2 linked regions of the Homo sapiens genome follow. The protein of the gene in region 1 purifies or fractionates together with the protein of each later gene. This does not show direct contact. Each region holds a gene or a part of one and is shown on either strand. Other genes may lie near its edges.

The links.
Region 2: the proteins of ROCK2 (region 1) and FBXO42 purify together in Homo sapiens (affinity purification with mass spectrometry; 2 studies listed by BioGRID and IntAct, with this or other methods). This does not show direct contact.

What each region holds. Positions count from the first base shown.
Region 1 is NC_000002.12:11,341,626-11,349,385, forward strand, and holds the start of ROCK2 (rho-associated protein kinase 2), read right to left. Parts: upstream 3,012-7,760; 5' UTR 2,512-3,011; coding exon 2,371-2,511; intron 1-2,370. UniProt on the Homo sapiens protein: Protein kinase which is a key regulator of actin cytoskeleton and cell polarity.
Region 2 is NC_000001.11:16,349,480-16,356,975, forward strand, and holds the start of FBXO42 (F-box only protein 42), read right to left. Parts: upstream 3,002-7,496; 5' UTR 2,776-3,001; intron 1-2,775. UniProt on the Homo sapiens protein: Substrate-recognition component of some SCF (SKP1-CUL1-F-box protein)-type E3 ubiquitin ligase complex. Specifically recognizes p53/TP53, promoting its ubiquitination and degradation.

The DNA of each region.
Region 1 (7,760 bases):
CCTGAATGTAGTGTCGCAGCTGTGTTTGCTTTAAATTATATTCCTTTAAATTTTCTGTTAAAGACAAAATATGTATTTCCCATGGCAAAACCAAAAAATAAATGTCATAGGCAGTAAAACAATGACCAATAGTGAAATGCAACCTAAATGCTAAGGTTTCAGATCTTTAAAGTGATACCAGCCATTATTTCGTCAGTATTTCAGGAAATATAATTTTTATAACATTCTTTTAAACATTAATTTACAGTTTCAGTTTGGAAAAATGAAAAGATTCCAGAGACGGATAGTGGTGATGGCTGCACAACAATGTGAATGTATTTAATGCCTGCCACTAACCTGTACACTTAAAAATGGTTAAAAATGGTAAATTCTGTATACGCTACCACAATAAAAAATCCATTCTAGTAGTTCATAAATAAAATACGCGTAATTTAAAATTAATTTATTATAAAAAAATTTTTAAATTTCGTTTATCAATTTGTAACAGAAACACCAGGAACCTTGCTCCAAAGGAATAAGGGACGCATTTTGGCTTGGAAAGGTTTACTGCACCTCAAGCATATTTAACCAACTAGAAACAGCAATAACAGAGTCTGTCAAGTCATCAGCACCTGATGTCAATTCTCAGATCCGTAATGTGCCACCTTAATAAAAGTGTGTTTTGGCTGTAATAACTGCTAAATGAATGAACTGTGTCCTGAACATGTGAGATGTTTCACTTTTAAAAATAGCCTCCATTTTAATAATTTGGAAAGCAATAAAACAAAATGCATGATCATATTACATGTATAAGCTACTTACATTCAAGCTCAGAATAACTCTAATAATTATGATTAATATCATTAAAGATCTAAGATATCAAAGTGAATTGCAAAACGTTTCCATCTAGGATTTAGCATGAACCTGATGAATACTTGAGATTTGCTGTACTATTTTTAACTAAACTTTCTGGCCTTAGGTCAAAGTTTTGCTAGCAAAATACCAAAGTGAAAATGCTGGGAGTGCAGCCCAGAGTCTCCGCTTTAGCCTAGGAAAAGCTATGCCATCCATGCAAGCAATCTTACTCCCGATTAAAGACTTTCAAAGACTGCTCCCATTAAAACATAGGAACAACACATTAACCCGAAAAACAGTAAAACATCAAACACATGTGACACAATATAGCACATCATTCATTACTTTCTGTACACTGTGCAGAAAGACACTATATAGCTAAAGTCAGTTCCTGCATTTTGACCAAACAGGACTGAGTCACTCTGCAAACGATGCCTGAAACCTCAAAGGATAACCAACCGCCTCTGACCAAAAGCCAGTCCGTCCGTCCCTGGAAAGGGAGGAGGCAGTTTTTCTCATCATACAGTAAGGTTTATTCCAGGAGGGAATAGAACTAAACATCTGCATTCCAGCACAGAATGTCTAACGGATCTAAGGACCTCCCACCCTAGTTCTAGTCTTCCAGAGTCAATTTAATACACAGAGTATCGTTTTCACCTTTCTTCCCCTCCCCAGGGTAAAAGTCCACACCCCCTTTTCCCATAAATGCATCTACACTGCACACTACTCAAATTGCGAAATACAATCATCTATCCTAACAAAAATAAGAAATAAGCCAGCATTCTACGGTGCATTTCTATTTTGTAAAACATGCTCCTTTCTTAACCAAGAGCCAATTAGCAGCCTTTACGGTGCTATTAATCTGGATTTCAAAGGTCGTTATAGGAAAGAGACGCAATGAAGAGGACAGATTTATTCCACTCCACAATTCAGACTGATTTTTTGGCTCTGGCGCAATAATCTCAGGGAATTAAATTTACAGCAATTAAAATGCACTAAATAGCAAGTATGGAATGCTCAAACGCAAGTGAAAACAGCAAAACTTTAGCTGTGTGTTCCAAGATTTCAGACTAAAAGGAGAGAGTGAGGGCGGCTCTTTGTCATGTACCCCAGTGAGTACTCGCAACAGGGACAGCATCAGGTTTCTTTCTCCCTCGCTCGCACCAAGTCCCCACGTAGCATGACACTTTCAAATCAGCTAACCTGGTGTATGAAGCATGGCCAGTCCTCCACCCACCTCCCCAGAGTGGGCAGGCGGAAGGAGAAGAGGGGTGTTTTCCTCCCAGTGCTGCAAGAAAGGAGCAGCCGGGGATGACACTGGCTCCAGCAGGAGGTAGAGGGAGGAATCAAAGGCGGGTCACTACTCTTGGAACTCGGTGACAGAATCGTTTGGTCTCCGGCCCCGGCTGCCGGAAGCAGGGCGGGGTGGGGCAAGACCTCCCCCTCCCCACGGGCGGACGGGCACGGAGGGCTGGGCGGAGAGGGGATCTGAGGTGTGAGCTGCAACGAGCAAGCTCCCAGGCCCCGGCCACCTACCAGCAAGCTCTCCACGTTGATGGGGGAGCGAGGGTCTCGGATCAGCGCCTCCAGCTTCCTCTGGCGGCTCGCGCCTGCCCCGTCCCCCGGCGCGGTCTCGGGGGCGCCGGGCATTTTCCCCGTCGGCGGGGGCCGGCTCATGCCGCCACCGCTGGACCCGCACTCAGGCTCCTCGCGCTCAGGTCCCGCAGCCTCGGGGCCTAGCACCGCCCCCGAACCACCAGCTCCGGCCGGGACTCCACCCGGGCCCACCGCCTGCCTCTAGCTCCGGCTTCGGGTCTCCAAGGCGGTCCCCCGCCTGGGGGCTGCTCCCAGGGGCCCGCCCGGCCCAGCCCGGCCCAGCCCGGCCCGGCCCTGCCGGGAGCGGCGGGGAACAGACGGCGTCCCCGCCCCTCAGTCAGATTCGCGCCGCCGGTCCGCTGGTCCTCAGCGAGTGCCCGCAGGAGTCCTCGGGCGGGAGCAGGGAAGTGGCGCCGCCACCGCCGCGGCCCGGACCGCCCCGCCCTCTGGGGCCCCGGGAGGCTGAAGCCCAGGCCTGGGCCACTACGGCCGCCGCCGGCCCGCTGCCATGGTCGCCGCCGGCCGCCTTGCAGTCCCTCAGCCAGCTCCCGGCGCACACACTCCCGCGCGGCCGCCCGTCTCCGGCCGCGCGCCGCCGCTACCCACAAGCCCCTCCGCCCGCAGCCGCCGGCGCGCGTCCCCGCCGGCCCTGCGCGCGCTCCGCCCCGCCCCGCCCCGCGCACCGCGCTTCCTCCCTTTCTTTCCCTTCCTGCGTCTGTCCCGCTCCGCTTTCTCCTCTGCGCCCCTTCCTCGCCCGCCCTCGCCTCCTCCCCCTGGCGAGGTTCTCTGAGGCGAATAGCCGGGCGCGCGGTCACGGCCGAGCTCCTGCTGGGGGAGGGGAGACGCACCCAGGCCGGGTCCTTCCGCGCGCCCCCTGCCCCTCCCGCCGGACCCCGCGGACTACCCCGCGGCCCCGAGGCGGAACCCCAGACGCCGGGCCCAGCGCACCGTGCGCTGGGGGGGAGCCCGGCCGCGCCCCCCGCCGCGGCCCCCGCTGACTCAGCGCGCAGCTATGCGGGCCTCGCCTCACCCGCGCCCAAATAATAGCGACCGAGCTCGGCGCCCGCGAGGGGCCGCAGGGCCGGGGGTTTCGAGGCGAGCCTGAGAGGGGGCCCTGGGTGTCTGGGATTCCGAATTAGCGGAGGCGGGTGGAATCCTAGTCCTGGGGCAGGAGGGCCTGGGATCCTGAAAGCGTTTCTGCCCGGCTTAGACACTAACCACTTCAAGAGAACGGGAGAGCACCGGAAAAAGGCTTTCCAGCCGCAGGCCTTCGCGGGGTCTTCTCCTTTTGGGGGGCGGAAGAGGGGTGGTTATCGGGACCGTTCCGCCGCATTCCTGCCCTCTCGGCGGCCGGTGCCATCGCTTAGATCCGCCCAGGGCGCAATCCGAAAATTATGTGCCAAGAGCTATAAAACCGTTCATAGAGCCCCTTTGACCCAGTAAACCCATTTAAGGAAGTACATTTCCAAGGAAATGATCCAAAGGGCGAAGAAGGGGGAGAACTTGCAGAAAGATGTTAACAGCAGGGCTATTCACAATGTTCGTGATGACCAAAACCTGGGAATGGGCCCAGTTGTCCAACAATTGAGTAACCCAAACAGGCGCCTTCACATTAACAGCAAGAATCCTGGCAGGTATGCAGACTGTGTCAAACATGAAATTTTGGCAAGTACATGAGAAGGTATATTAGAAATAAATGAAACAAAAAAAATCGTTTGTACACACTAAAACTATGTAAAATGAGCAGCTATAAGAACCAGAGAATACAGTACTTCTTAAATAAATGGGATTTTTTTCTGTAAAGATACTTAAGAACAAATTAAATTTCAAAAAATGGAAAAACCACTCCGAAAAGCAACAATCTGATATCCATTAAGTAATAAGAATGTTAAGAACTGTCTCCCTGGCATGTCAGAGATAAACCCGAAGATAGGGTGAAGCCCCAGCCCTGTAAAAGTTGCATTTTGATCCAAACCATTGGATTAGTTGGAGCCTCTTCTTTGGTTTTAGGTTAGTTAAAACCACCCCTAGCTGGACTCATGCAGGAAGAGGCCCCGATGATCCATCCAATGCAGCTTTTCCCTTTCAGATAGTAACACTGACTTCACATCCAGAGAGTCCTTTAAGTCTGTGTATTGAGCTACTCATTCAGACCTCCACAGAGGCCACCAGGAGAACAGAGGGAGCTAGACACTCCCACTTATGCATTGGAGCAAAATAATGAGATAATCTATGATTATGGATTATTTTTCTGATGACAAAATAATATGCAAGGCAAAAGGAGCACTCTGTCTAGCGGGGCGTGGTGGCCTGTGCCTGTAGTCCCAGCTCCCCCTGAGGCTGAGTTGGAGGCCTCCTCCATTGAGCCCAGGAGGCCAAGGCTGCAGTGAGCTGTGATCACACCGCTGCACTCCAGCCTGGGCAACAGAGTGAGATTGTCTCAAAAAAAAAAAAAAAAAAACACTGTGGTTCTCAGTTTCCAAATTAATTTTGACTGGTTGTATATTTGTATGTAGCTTGGTGGAATAACAGGAAGCCATGGTCCAAATACCGAACATGAAAACCTTATTTTAAGAGTAGTGATCAACAAGATATATATCCTGGGCATGTTCTACATATACTTATTTATATAGACCAGAAAAAGCCATGGTACAGAAGATTTTTACCCAAGACCTATCCCATTGTCTACCTGGAAGAAGAGAAAATGAATCTGTTGATATGAGTTAAACCTTTTTGCAGGATGGGGTAAGGGTAAGGAGGAGGTTAGTACAACAATTCTTGTTTTCAAAAGTAATGCACAAATGCATTCTTGTAAAAGTTCAAACGAACCAGAAATATATGGAACATAATCTAAAATTTACTGTTCTGACTATATTTCCACATACATTCTTATATCACTCAAGGCCTTTGGCCATTCTCATACATATGTATTATAGATACATGTTACCTTTTCCCCACAGACATGAAATTATACCATATCATGGTGTTTGGCAACTTGGTTTTTTCCCTTCATTACTAATATGTCCTAGAGGCGTGTCCATGTCTATAGGCAGAGATCTGCTTCATTCCGCTTACCTGCTGTCCTCTACTCCCCAGTTTGGATGTGCCACACTGTAATTATTCTCTATTCGAGAGCATAGTGGTTAAGAAACAATTGCCAAAATCCTGCCCCAAACACACACTTGCCATGTGACCCTGAGCAAGTTACCTAACTCCTCTGTGTCTCGGGGTCCTCACAATATTTGTTATAAAGTGCTTAGAAATGTGCTGGCCCTCAATCAATGCTAGATATTATTAATATTTTCTCACTGTTAAAATGATCCATTGACATCCTCGTATCCTCATATTTGAATAGTATAGATTCCTAAAAGTGGAATTGTCATAACAAAGGGTAGGCATACTGTAAATACAGATGCTGCCAACCTGTTATTTATTTATTTATTGGAGGCAGGTTTACATTCTGTCCTTCAGGCTGGAGTGCAGTGGCACGAGAGATCTTGGCTCACTGCAACCTCCACCTCTAGGGCTCCAGCAGTCCTCCCACTTCAGCCTCCTGAGTAGCTGGAACTGCAAGCACACAACACCATGCCTGGCTAATTTTTGTATTTTTTGTAGAGACAGGATTTTGCCTTGTTGCCCAGGCTGTTCTCTAAGTCCTGAGCTCAAGCGATCCACTCACCTCAGCCTCCCAAAGTGCTGGGATTACAGGGGTGAGTCACAGAGCCGGGCCTCAACCTGGCCTTTAAAAAGACGCTACCCGTTTACATTCTCAGCGTGAGTAGAAGAAACTGCCCATGTCCCTTCACCTTTCCCAGTATTCAATATTATATTTTTAATTGTTGTCAATAAAATGGGCAAAAAACGCCATCTTGTTCTGACTTGTATTCCCTTAATTACTACTGAAGATAGGCATTTTGTCTATCTATTTCTTCTGCAATTACCTGTTTATATCTTTTATCCATTAGTTTTGTCTCTTTTTATTATTTATAAGAGCTCCTTATGTATTTTGGATATTCCTTTTTGTTATATTATAATAGAATATATTAAAATATGTTACAGTTTGTGAAGATTTTTTTCCAGTCTGTTGCTTGTCATTCAGTTTTGTTTTTTACCTGTTATGCGGTCAAATCGGTTGATATTGTCCTCTACAGCTTCTGGGTTCTGTATCTGTGTTAAGGAGGATTTCCAACCCAGTTTTTAGGTCACACAGAATACTGGAATTGCAACAGGTTATGAGGAAATGGCAGTTTCCTAATATTCTCAGCTCAGCTCATCCCAAATTAGCTGTGGAAGGGGGTTCCCTGGGCTTGCTGGTCTCCAAGGGAACTCCTGCTGTGACTCCTGTTGCCACGCGACTCGGGCCAGGGTTGACTGCTCCTTTCTAACAGAGTCCCCAGTGTGTCCTGAGCACAGTTGAGACAGGCAGGAACTTGGACAGAAACTTTTGTTCAATAGTAAGGAAGAACAATGGAAAAATAAACACGGAAAATACAGGGCATTTAACCAGGCTGGCCTATCAATGGATAAGGCTTGGATTGCACCATAACTGTTCATAGCTTGCTCTGCAGAACTTAGAAACTCCACTCCGTTTCATATGAATTTCTTTTCTCTGTCTCTTCATTCCCAATGGTCTATTTGACATCCACTACCCAGCAATGCCTTCCTAGCCCTCCTGATGCTTCCTCACCCAGACTGAGGGTCCAGGCCTCCTTCTTTTCTCTGAGATCCATCTCCTCAAGTTTCAGTTTTTTATTTGAGGAATCTGCCTCTTCCTCAAGAATTAATTCACCTTTCAGATGCAACTTTACCCTCTCCACCCATAGCTAGTGCTGGAAAAGGACCATTTTTGTCTTTTGACCATGTGGCTTTTGTAATTACTCTTTTAATTATAACTATTATTTTAAGGACTAACTATGTGCTAGGCAGCACGCTTTATAGAGATTATCTTAATTCTTGAAACAGCCTTTTGCTTACGGTAATATTACTATGCCCATTTTACAGGTGATGTAATGAGGACTCATATATATGCACATGGAGTGAATAAATGAATTAAGGAATGGATGGGTGAAAACAACGAACTGTGAATGGTCCAGCCATCACCAATAAGACACGTAACAACTTTTCCCATCTCGCTTCACGCTGCCAGGCAACGCAGGCTGGCATTGTTGTAGTGAGTTGCTTCTGTTCCACACAAGCCAGGATTTAATAACAGAATAAAGGAATGAACTCGCAATACAAAGGTGTCATTATCTTTGTAAACTCCTCTACTATAAAGGGTACAGGGTTTAATGGTTTATGAAATAGAGTTTCATCCTAAGTTTCATTCATGG
Region 2 (7,496 bases), on another chromosome or scaffold:
GCACTTTCACGAACACTATCTTTTCTGATCCACATTAACAATCGTGGGAAGGGCTTTATTTAATCAAATGGCTTCTGGTTTTATAAAGAGTTAATTCAGGGCCGGGCGCAGTGGCTCAAGCCTGTAATCCCAGCACTTTGGGAGGCCAAGGCAGGTGGATCGCCTGCGGTCAGGAGTTCAAGACCAGCCTGGCCAACATAGTGAAACCTTGTCTCTACTAAAAATACAAAAAATTAGCTGGGCATGATGGCAGGCACCTGCAATCCCAGTTACTCAGGAAGCTGAGGCAGGAGAATCGCCTGAACCGGAGAGGTGGAGGTTGCAGTGAGCCGAGATCATTGCACTCCAGCCTGGGAAACAAGAGCAAAACTATGTCTCAAAAAACAAACAAAAAGAGTTAATTCATTGACTAAAACAATTCTGAAATCACAAAGATAATTACGTATTTGTTCATCTTTGAGATAGCTTCTCCCTGGGACCTCAGTGTTCTCATAAAACTCAGACGTTTTGTTAGCATTTTCTTTGCTTGCTCTCCATAATAGGTAGGACTCACCCTGCTCTGAATCTTACTCAGGGTTTAAACCACATAAAGCTGTTATTAAAGACCCCTCTAGAAATCAGACAAGAAGAAGCATCCTAAGCTATTTTTTTTCTGATCCTGTTCTTTTTGTAACTAAGGTAAGGAATTGCAAAGGTCAAAATCTGGAGAGCAAATGATGTCATGGATGTCATGAAGTTGCATCAATACCTGATGATGATTTAGCATAACAGTGCAACATATTATGCCAAGAAGCATAATGATGAGCCACCAGGATGTTTTACTGCATTAATTTCATGACTCTTTATTAGCAAATTGATATGCAAAGTAGCTCTCCAATTTTCTACCACAGAGAAGCTGCTGGTTCAGATTTACATCTTTAGCAAAGACACTAAGAAAATCGACAAATTTCTATGGAAAAGTCTTTGATTTAAAAATAGAAAAGGAGGCTGGGCACGGTGGCTCAAGCCTGGGGTGGGGCAGGGTATCGCTTGAGACCAGGAGTTTGAGATCAGCCTGGGCAACATCGGTGAAACCCCGTCTCTACTAAAATTACAAAAAAAAAAAAAAAAAAAAAAAAATTAGCGGGCGTGGTGGCGCACACCTGTAATCCCAGCTACTCAGGAAGCTGAGGCAGGAGAATCGCTTAAACCCAGGGGATGGAGATTGCAGAGAGCCGAGACTGTGCTACTGCACTCCAGCCTGGATGACAGAGTGAGAAACTGCAAAAAAAAAAAAAAAAAGAAAGAAAGAAAGAAAGAAAGAAAGAAAGAAAGAAAATGGTCAAATAATAACCTAAACAGTTGTCATTTTAACAATGAAAAGCTTTTTAAGATACGCAACATGCCTATGGATCAATGTAGATTGAATCATCTATTTATACTGGCTTGTCAAAAGCAAACAGTTACTGGGTATAAAATGACAACATACAATAGAAAAGACACCCAATCAGATTACACACGTGAATACACTCAAAGTTAGCAATTTAACACAGCATCACTAATGGCCATAAGATATACAGACTTAATTCTAAATATTCAATTCTAAATGATGGTACTTCCCCCAAATTTTCCTTGCCTCTTTAAATCCATGATGTCATCATTCTTAAGCAGAAGTAAAGCCAATTTGTTACAAAAGATATTTTGGTGTGTCCAAGCAAAAGCAATCGCCTCAACAATTCTGCATAGCACAAGTTCAGTGAAGCCATCATTCCTCAAGAAAGAGACCACAAGGCTTCAAACCGACTTCCCTACATGACAGAAACACAATCGAAGTCTCCCAATTAGCATTTAAACAGCAATAAAAGTTGTTCTCAAAAAGGAACAACATAGTTTCAACGTCGGGGCCAGCAACTGCCAGCAAGTAAAACTGGTAATGTGTCAGAATCTTCATCTAGATCGATCAGAATCCCACCACAGAAAAATCCAGACTCTGGCAATTAAGAAATGAGGCTTTTATTTTCCTAACAGAAATCGGGAGATTTAACAGACAAAGCAATTGGTTATTCTGAATCTTAACAAACCGAAGGTTTCAAACGAACTCAGCGCTGAAGTTACTCTGCAGCGACCATCAAGATCTCACAATCGTTTTCTCTTCGCTTACAAATTCGTTCCCACCCTCCACCGTTCCCTTTGCACACACAATTCTCGCCAAGAGAAGCCTTCCACAGTCACAGCATGGATTGCTGTCTCAAGCAAGGAGATCCGCAGTTCCCATTTCTCTAAGGGAACACTCAACAAGCTAGGGGATAGGAAAGGCCTTTTGTGTTTTATTTAACGTAAACCAATTCCAAAATTATCCCTTTGCAGCTGCAGGTTCAGAGATGCTAGCCCCCAGCCGCAGCCCCAATTTTGATGGGCACCCGACCCCCGACTCCTCTCTCGCAAAGGAGTGAAATGTTCGGAGGAGCGATGAAAGATTACCTGACACCCTAAAGCCATCCTTGCCCGGGCCACACACCCCTTCACTGCCCGGGTGAGGGGACGAGAACCACCCTGCTGAGGAGAGGGGGTGGGTTCGCTCCCAACCCAAGGGCTGGCTGGAAAGGAGCTGTCCTCCTCCTCGCCTCACTCGAGGACGGCGATAGCAAGTCACCCTGCCCAACCAGGACCGACCCCCGCGTGGGATACGGGGCCTGCGTCAGACCCCGGGCGCCCGCTGCCCCTTGCCAGTCCCGGGCATAAAGGGCAGAAGGCGCCGGCTCCCCTCTGCGGCCCGGGGAGGAGGAGAGGCCTCACCTGGCCCAGCCCGCTCCACGCTCTCGGGTTCGCTCCGCTGGCGACGGTAATGAGGGAGCCAGGGACAGGGCCAGAGCAGAGGCGCTCTGCCTCAGGCCGCGACAGCCGTGCTCGGGGCTCCTCACAGCTGGCGGGACCCCGAGCCGCCCGGAGCCGCCATCTTCCTCCACTCAAACGCCGCCGCCGCCGCAGCTGCTGCTGCTCAGGCCGGGAGAAGACAGCGCAGAGCGCGCATGCGCCGGGGCGGGCGCGGCGGACGCGCGCGCACTCACGTCAGCGCGGCGGGATGGCGAGGGGCGGCCAGGGGGCGGCGCAGTGTTGAGAAAGGCCGTGGTCACAGGCCGAGGTTCTGTGGAGGGTGGAATGCGCTCGGGGGAGCTAGGCCTCCGCACCCGCCTTCGCCGCGTCTCTAGCGTCGACCTGATAGCCGCACCCACCCTCCGCTGCACTGTCTGGGGCAACTGGGTGGTTTTCCCGGTGGTTTGAGACTAACATTTAGCCAGGAATTAACTCACTTCTACCCCGAGGGCCCGATGAGCAGAGAGGGCTGTGGCGGATGTGAGTGCTCTTGGATATCGCCAAGGGGAGGGAAACTGTGCTTGAGGTGTGCAGGAGAAGTCTTCCCTTAACCGTAGCCTCGTAGCAACCACTGTGAGTTCTTACTAGCTCCACTTTTCAGATGAGGAAACTGAGGCACAGAAAACGATCACTTATTTGCCCGGAGTCACACACCTATCAGTGGAGGTGGGGCGGCGCGGGAAAGAGGATTTAAACTCAGGCTTGTCTGGTTCCCAAGCTCCTTTACTTCCTACTAGCTAGGTTATAGGATCCAGCAAAGTCCCCCTTCTCAAGGGAGCAACCTGGTGTGTAGGTGAGAACCTTCATGAGCCCAGCCCTACAGCATGTGGTCTAAGGAAATGCCAGATACAGAGTCAAAGGCTTCAGTCTAAACTCTGTAAGCCAAAAAAACAAAACAAAACAAAACAAAAAACTAAGCCCCCACCCCCCCCCCAACACCAAACCATCTGAACGGACTTCCTCCTAGGCCAGGGCAGTCTAAAATGTAACCAACCTGAGAGACTGGTTCAGGCCATGACGGGAAGCAGGACATGAGACATGCCTCATTACATCCTTCAGCATTGACATCAACACAACAGACCTTAAGACTGGTAAGAAACATTTACAATCTGTTCTCTCTGGAGCCCACCTGCCACTTGGAGGCTTCACGTGCGTGATAAAACTTTGGTGTCCACAATCCCTTATCATAACCCAGACATTCATTTCTATTGATAATAACTTTTTTTTTTTTGAGACAGGGTCTAACTCTGTTGCCCAGGCTGGAGTCCAGTGATGAGTTCTTGGTTCGCTGCAACCTCTGTCTTTCAGGCTCAAGCTATCCTCCTACCTTAGCCTCCTGAGTAACTGGGACTACAGGCGGGCACCACCATGCCTGGCTAATTTTTCCATTTTTTTTGTAGACACAGGGTTTCGCCATGTTGTCCACTCTCATCTCAAACTCCTGAGCTCAAGTAATCCACTTGCCTCGGCCTCCCAAAATGCTTGGATTACAGGCGTGTGCCACCGCACCAGGCCTATTGATAATAACTATTTCAACTCATTGCCAATCAGAAAATGTTTAAATCTGCCTATAATGTGGAAGCCCCCACTTCAAGTTTCCGGTCTTTCTGCACCGAACCAATGTAGTTTTTATTTATTTATTTACTTATTTTTATTTATTTGTTTATTTTTTTGAGACTGAGTCTTGCTCTGTCGCCCAGACTAGAGTGCAGTGGCACCATCTCCGCTCACTGCAACTTCCGCCTCCTGGGTTCAACCGATTCTCCTGCCTCAGCCTCCCGAGTAGCTGGGATTACAGGCGCCCGCCACCGTGCCCAGCTAATTTTTGTATTTTCAGTAGAAAATACAAAATTCAGTAGAAAATACGGGGTTTCACCATCTTGGACAGGCTGGTCTCAAACTCCTGAACTCGTGATCCACTCACCTCGGCCTTCCAAAGTTCTGGGATTACAGGTGTGAGCCACGGCGCCTGGCCTTTTTATGTATTTATTGAGACAGGGTCTCACTCTTCGCCCAGGCTGGAGTGCAGTGGTGTGATCTCCACTCACTGCAACCTCTGCCTCCCAGGTCCAAACGATTCTCGTGCCTCAACCTCCTGAGTAGCTGGGATTACAGACATGTGCCACCACACCCAGCTAATTTTTGTATTTTTAGTAAAGACGGGGTTTCACCATGTTGGCCAGGCTGGTCTCGAACTCTTGCCTCAGTTGATCCACCCGCCTCGGCCTCCCAAAGTGCTGGGATTACAGGCATACGCCCCTGCACCTGGCCCTGTATTAATATATCTTAAATGTATTTGATTGATGTCTCATGTCTCTCTAAAATGTATAAAACCAAGCTGCTTCCCAACCACCTTGGGCACATGTTCTCAGGATCTCCCAAGGGCTGTGTCATGGGCCATGGTCACTCATATTTGGCTTAGAATAAATCTCTTCAAATATTTTACAAAGTTTCCTCCTAGGAAATCTCATGGGGCATAGGGCTGGGCCAGAAGCCAAGTTCCCCTCAAGTTGGAGGGCAAGGCCTCTTTGAGCAGACTTGGGTCACCCTTACCCATAGAGAGCTGTATGAGCCAGAGGCGGTGGTGCATACTTGTCAGCCCAGCACTTTGGGAAGCCAAGAGGGGAGGATCGCTTGAGCTCAGGAATGCAAAACCATCCTGGGCACCATAGCAAGACCCCATCCCTACAAAAAGTTGAAAAATTAGCTGGACATGGTGGCATGTGTACCTGTAGTTCTAGCTACTTGGGAGACAGAGGCAGAGGGTTGCTTGAGCTCAGGAGTTGGAGGTTGCAGTGAGCTATCATCACCTCACTGCACGCCAGCCTGGGTGATAGAGGGAACCCATCTCAAATAAATAAATAGAAAGCAGTATATTCTTACGTTCTTCAAACCTGAATAATGCAAAGTCCCCTAGGGATACACTCAGGGAATCCCAGTGGGAGAAACATTGATTTAAGAAAATCATGTTTTGGCCAGGCGCGGCGGCTCACGCCTATAATCCCAGCACTTTGGGAGGACGAGGCAGGCGGATCACCTGAGGTCGGGAGTTCGAGACCAGCCTGACCAACATTGAGAAACCCTATCACTACTAAAAAAAAAAATACAAAATTAACCAGGCGTGGTGGCACATGCCTGTAATCCCAGCTACTCGGGAGGCTAAGGCAGGAGAATTGCTTGAACCCGGGAGGTGGAGGTTGTGGTGAGCCGAGATCGCATCATTGCACTCCAGCCTGGGCAACAAGAGCGATACTCCCTCTCAAAAAAAAAAAAAGAAAGAAAAGAAAAGATAAAGAAAATCAAGTCTTTCAACTAGGAAATTTTACTGCAAAAGAGAAATTGGGCAATTATAACTGGTAAAGGAAATATTTTTAAATCTGGTTTTTAAATCTAGTTTTTAAATCATGTCATTAAAAACCTCAAGCTTAAAAATTACTAGAACTGAGCCGGGTACGGTGGCTCACACCTGTAATCTTAGCACTTTGGGAGGCCGAGGCAGGCAGATTGTCTGAGCTCAGGAGTTCGAGACCACCATGGGAACAACATGCTGAAACCCTGTCTCTACTAAAGTACAAAAAATTAGCCAGGCTTGGTGGTACACACCTGTAATCCCAGCTACTCGGGAGGTGGAGGCAGGAGAATTGCTTGAACCCAGGAGGTGAAGGTTGCAGTGAGCTGAGATTGTGCCACTGCACTCCAGCCTGGGCCACGGAGCGAGACTGTCTCAAAAAAAAAAAAAAAAAATTACTAGAACTTGTGACCAACTCCACTCTTCCCCCTCCAAATATCCTGTAGAGCTCAATATTGGAAACACTGGACCAGCTATTAAATGCTACTTTTTTTTTTTTTTTGAGGAAGGAAGTTTCCAACCGGGCTCAATCAATTCTTCCACCTCAGCCTCCAGAGTAGCTTGCATAGTCCCAGATACTTGGGAGGCTGAGGTAGGAGGATTGATTGAGCCAGGGTGTTTGAGGTTGCAGTGAGCTATAATCACTCCACTCCAGCCTGGTGTGACAGAGCGAGACTCTGTCTCAAAAAAAAAGTAAAAGTAACAAAAAAAAGTAAAAAAAAAATCCTAGCACTTTCGTAGGCCAAGACAGGTGGATCACTTGAGGTCAGGCGTTCAAGACCAGCCTGGCCAACATGGTAAGACCCCGTCTCTACTAAAAATACAAAAATTAGCCAGGAATGGTGGCATGTGCCTGTAATCCCAGCTACTCGGGAGGCTGAGGCACAAGAATCACTTGAAACTGGAAGGTGGAGGTTGCAGTGAGCTGAGATCATGCCACTGCACTCCAGCGTGGGTGACAGAGTGAGACTCTGTCTCCAAAAAAAAAAAAATAAGTAAAAGTAAAAATGCAGGTTCCATGGCCAGTTGCAGTGTTGCACGCTGGTAATCCCAACCCTTTCAGTGGCTGACATGGGAGGCTGACTTGAGGCCAGGAGTTGAGATCAACCTGAGCGAGATAGCAAGACCCCATCTCTACAAAAATAAATTAAAATGCAGGTTCCAGGGCCCACCTCAAACAATGGCCTCAGACTTTTCTGAAAGCTCCTCAGGGATTCTGTTGAGCAGTCAGGGTTGGAACTGCTGGACCATGTTAGAATACGTTCAAATACAGAATCACTTCACCCTGAATCTT